Regions from separate parts of the Homo sapiens genome. Here region 1 is linked to region 2. A link means that fine-mapping ties the variant in region 2 to the expression of a gene that starts in the linked region. Tissue or cell type: lung. Region 2 holds a variant in brackets; the other region holds the start of a gene. All regions are shown on one strand. Distances are from middle to middle.

Region 1 (2,676 bases), 400 kb after region 2:
ATAAATAAACAATACTAGACTGTAGCTCAAGATCTCCAGGTAACCAATCACTTATATGACAGAGATGAATAGTCCTGCCTGCACAATTCTATAGAGAACGAATGAGCTGCTTAATTTTTTTAATTTAGAACTTTCAACAATTTTTGTGCAAATCATTTTACTTCAGTTTCCTTATGCATAAAATATGAATATTGCCTATATAACTGCATCCGTGAAATAGAATATGTTTAAGTACCCAGGCAGAGTATTTCACATATACTATGCAATAAATATATGGTAGACGCAGCTTTTACTATCCTAGACCAAGTACTACTTTTACTTTAAATCAATTTTAAAAAGAATTGGTTGAATGGTAAGCAGCAGGTTGATCTGGGGCCTGTGAGAGACGGAAGAATAGAGAGAGAGAAAGGGAGAGGGAGAGAGAAAGAGAGAGACTGACTTTCCATAGCTGAGAATCAGTTTGAAATTCACACCTGCTTTACCCCACACACAGTAATTATGCACAAATAGGACAAATGGATAGGAAGGACTATGACGGTACCAAAATAGTCCAACCCATGCCCACAGTAAATGTCCTTGGTAAAAATAAACGTACTACAACACCCAGAAGTCTCCCTTCATCCCCAATAAATGCCTCTCCTAAGTCGCCCTAGTAGAGAATGGAAAGGAAACCACAACCACCGCCACCACTAAGCTTCCTGGATCCTGCTAAAAGACCTGTCCCTCCAGCCTCTTCTGAATTGCATTCTCACCTTTCTCTGTCGGATCAGCTTGGCCAGCTGCATCCCCGAAAGCAGAAGCAATGGTTCAGTCACCGGCCGAGGGGTCTTTGAGGCAAACTTTGGACCCCCTAAGACTAAAGCTGCTCGGCCTACTAAGCCTATGAGAAAGCCTAGCGCCCGCAAGAGGAACAACTGAATGCGGGCGGTAAATGAAGGTGCCATCGCAGCCTGGATTCCGCACGGTCCTAGTGCTTGAGGGTTACGTGCACCCTGGGGAAAGGACGAGAAAAGTACTAAGCAAAGAGGGACTTATGAAGCTTTTCGTTTACAAGTCCAGTGTCTACCCACAATTCCACAGGAGCTTGTTTATCATCACCTGCAGGGCTCCTAGCCAGAGATGGGGGCGGAGACTTCCCAGCAGCTGCCTGTGTGCAATGCTACCTGTCGTTAGTGCTGTTGTAACCCAAGACAGAAAATGCGTCATAAGAAAGAACACTGGCCTTGGAATTCCCCAGTTCTGCTACTGTGTAGCCCTGGCCAACCTACACTATATCTCCTAGTCAGTTTACTCATAAGAAAAAAAATGGGAATAACTACTCCTATATCAAAGGGTTACCATAAACACTAGATAATAAGTAAAAACATTTAGCACAATTTATGGTAAATAGTATAAGTGGTAGTTGTTATAGTTTATTTCAGCTGTGCTTGTGAAAAAAGTGTTGTAAGTATACCTTTGTATGCAAATATTCAGTATGCTCAACAAACAACTAAATGGCAAGTATATATATATTTTCCATATGCATATTATTTAATCCTTATAAGATCACTAACAGGTAGTACTGATGAACATCAAATCTCCAGCCCATCTGTCTCCTAAACTGGACACTTGAAATGCCTTTTTTGACATATCCATGTGAATGTCTTCCAGATCGTTCAAACTCAACAAGTCCAAAACTCATCCTTTTGTCCCCCAGACTGCTGCCCCTACAGGTCTACAAATGGAATTTTCATCCACCCAGTCAGCCATGCCAAAAATCTAGAATCACTTCAGATTCTTCCATTTCTCTTATTCTCATGACAGAATCCAGCCCTTCCTTCTCAACTCAGTCTGGCTCAGATCTCACTGAGGTTTACATGAACTTCTACAAATAATCTAGCTGATCACTCTGCCTTTATTTATAGAGTGTTCTTTCTAATATGTAAATCTGACAATATTACACCCCTGCCAATAACTCCGCAATAATTCTCCATTTTCCACAGATTCAAGACCCATCTACTTTGTCCAGCATTCGACTCTCATGACTGGTGTCTGAAAAACTCTATGCTTCATCCCTAACCCCTTCTATCCCTCACATGCTAAGCTCCTGACAAACAACTATCCGAAAGTTCTCTCTTCCCTCCTTATCTTTGCATCTGCTTTCCCAACCTCTTCATCTAGTTCAGGACAAGTACCACCTCCTCCAGTAAGTCTTCCCTGAACTTACAACTGGGTGTGATGCCACTCTTTTGTAACCCTGCACTCCACAGATTAACAAAATCATAGCACTTACAACCCTCTGTTATGTGTTAGGTTTTTGTGTCTATGCCCCATCTAGATATAAACTCCTCGAAGAACAGGGTCATTCTAATTCCTCTTTGTATTGCCAGAGCCTGACATAGGGCTTGATGAGAAGTCAATACAGGTTTGTAGGCTGAAGGTATGTGATTATGAGATAATGAGCGTTGAAGATAGGGATTCGAGCTTGGCATTTAAGGTCTTGGGTAGGTGAAATGACAACGTCATCCAGGTCACTGTCTTTTCACCTGCAGAACTTAGGTTGATACTGAAAGTGTCATCACAGCACTTCTAGCCTAATTCAAGCACCTGGTAGAAAGCAGGTTAATCATGACAGGCACATCTAGCAGATCCAGTAAAGAAAGCTGATAAAGCAGGTTGTCATAATCTAGGCTCCAT
Region 2 (2,676 bases):
GCTTGTTTTTGTCAGGTTTGTCAAAGATCAGATAGCTGTAGATGTGTGGTATTATTTCTGAGGGCTCTGTTCTGTTCCATTGGTCTGTGTGTCTGTTTTGCTACCAGTACCATGCTGTTTTGGTTACTGTAGCCTTGTAGTATAGTTTGAAGTCAGGTAGCGTGATGCCTCCAGCTTTGTTCTTTTGGCTTATGATTGACTTGGTGATGTGGGCTCTTTTTTGGTTCCATATGAACTTGAAAGTAGTTTTTTCCAATTCTGTGAAGAAAGTCATTGGTAGCTTGATGGGGATGGCATTGAATCTGTAAATTGCCTTGGGCAATATGGCCATTTTCACGACATTGATTCTTCCTACCCATGAGCATGAAATGTTCTTCCGTTTGTTTGTATCCTCTTTTATTTCATTGAGCAGTGGTTTGTAGTTCTCCTTGAAGAGGTCCTTCACTTCCCTTGTAAGTTGGATTCCTAAGTATTTTATTCCCTTTGAAGCAATTGTGAATGGGAGTTCAGTCATGATTTGGCTCTCTCTTTGTCTGTTATTGGTGTATAAGAATGCTTGTGATTTTTGTATATTGACTTTGTATCCTGAGACTTTGCTGAAGTTGCTTATCAGGTTGAGGAGATTTTGGGCTGAGATGATGGGGTTTTCTAGATATACAATCATGTCATTTGCGAACAGGGACAATTTGACTTCCTCTTTTCCTAATAGAATACCCTTTATTTCCTTCTCCTGCCTGATTGCCCTGGCCAGAACTTCCAACACTATGTGGAATAGGAGTGGTGAGAGAGGGTATCCCTGTCTTGTGCCCGTTTTCAAAGGGAATGCTTCCAGTTTTTGCCCATTCAGTATGATATTGGCTGTGGGTTTGTCATAGATAGCTCTTATTATTTTGAGATATGTCCCATCAATACCTAATTTCTTGAGAGTTTTTAGCATGAAGGGTTGTTGAATTTTGCAAAGACCTTTTCTGCATCTATTGAGAAAATCATGTGGTTTTTGTCTTTGGTTCTGTTTATATGTTGGATTACATTTATTGATTTTCATATGTTGAACCAGGCTTGCATCCCAGGGATGAAGCCCACTTGATCATGTTGGATAAGCTTTTTGATTTGCTGCTGGATTTGGTTCACCAGTATTTTATTGAGGATTTTTTCATTGATGTTCATCAAGGTTATCGGTCTAAATTCTCTTTTTTTGTTGTGTCTCTGCCATGCTTTGGTATTAGGATGATGCAGGCCTCATAAAATGAGTTAGGGAGGATTCCCACTTTTTCTATTGGTCGGAATAGTCTCAGAAGGAATGGTAACAGCTCCTCTTTGTACCTCTGGTAGAATTCGGCTGTGAATCCATCTGGTCCTGGACTTTTCTTGTTTGCTAAGCTATTGATTATTGCCTCAATTTCAGAGCCTGTTATTGGTCTATTCAGAGATTCAACTTCTTCCTGGTTTAGTCTTGGGAGGATGTATGTGTCCAGGAATTTATCCCTTTCTTCTAGGTTTTCTAGTTTATTTGC[G/A]TAGAGATGTTTATAGCATTCTCTGATGTTAGTTTGTATTTCTGTGGGATTGGTAGTGATATCCCCTTTATCGTTTTTTATTGCATCTATTTGATTCTTCTCTCTTTTCTTCTTTATTAGTCTTGCTAGCAATCTATCAATTTTGTTGATCTTTTCAAAAAACCAGCTCCTGGATTCATTGATTTTTTGAAGGGTTTTTTTGTGTCTCTATTTCCTTCCGTTGCACTCTGATCTTAGTTATTTCTTGCCTTCTGCTAGCTTTTGAATGTGTTTGCTCTTGCTTTTCTAGTTCTTTTAATTGTGATGTTAGGGTGTCAATTTTAGATCTTTCCTGCTTTCTCTTGTGGGCATTTATTGCTATAAATTTCCCTCTACACACTGCTTTGAATGTGTCCCAGAGATGCTGGTATGTTGTGTCTTTGTTCTCCTTGGTTTCAAAGAACATCTTTATTTCTGCCTTCATTTCGTTATTTACCCAGTAGTCATTCAGGAACAGGTTGTTCAGTTTCCATGTAGTTGAGCAGTTTTGAGTGAGTTTCTTAATCCTGAGTTCTAGTTTGATTGCACTGTGGTCTGAGAGGCAGTTTGTTATAATTTCTGTTCTTTTGCATTTGTTGAGGAGTGCTTTACTTCTAACTGTGTGGTCAGTTTTGGGGTAGGTGTGATGTGGTGCTGAAAAGAATGTATATTCTGTTGAATTGAGGTGGAGAGTTCTGTAGATGTCTATTAGGTCTGCTTGGTGCAGAGCTGAGTTCAATTCCTGGGTATCCTTCTTAACTTTCTGTCTCGTTGATCTGTCTAATGTTGACAGTGGTGTGTTAAATTCTCCCATTATTATTGTGTGGGAGTCTAAGTCTCTTTGTAGGTCACTAAGGACTTGCTTTATGAATCTGGGTGCTTCTGTATTGGGTGCTTATCTATTTAGGATATTTAGCTCTTCTTGTTGAATTGATCCCTTTACCGTTATGTAATGGCCTTCTTTGTCTCTTTTGATCTTTGTTGGTTCAAAGTCTGTTTTATCAGAGACTAGGATTGAAACACCTGCTTTTTTTTTGTTTTCCATTTGCTTGGTAGATCTTCCTCCATCCCTTTATTTTGAGCCTATGTGTGTCTCTGCACATGAGATGAGTTTCCTGAATACAACATTCTGATGGGTCTTGTT

The links. PIP is the estimated chance that this variant, and not a neighbour inherited with it, causes the effect.
Region 1: FAAH2 starts here. The variant in region 2 is fine-mapped to the expression of FAAH2 in lung (TOPMed, PIP 0.92).

What each region holds. Positions count from the first base shown.
Region 1 is chrX:57,285,094-57,287,769 of GRCh38, reverse strand. It overlaps FAAH2 (fatty acid amide hydrolase 2), which reads right to left and starts at 1,064. Exons shown (of 11, transcript NM_174912.4): 1 at 753-1,064. The coding sequence starts at 944.
Region 2 is chrX:57,686,467-57,689,142 of GRCh38, reverse strand. No RefSeq gene overlaps it. Among named protein-coding and RNA genes, the nearest start is that of NLRP2B, 7.5 kb to the right of the region's middle. The variant G/A (reference allele first, on the strand shown) is at 1,515.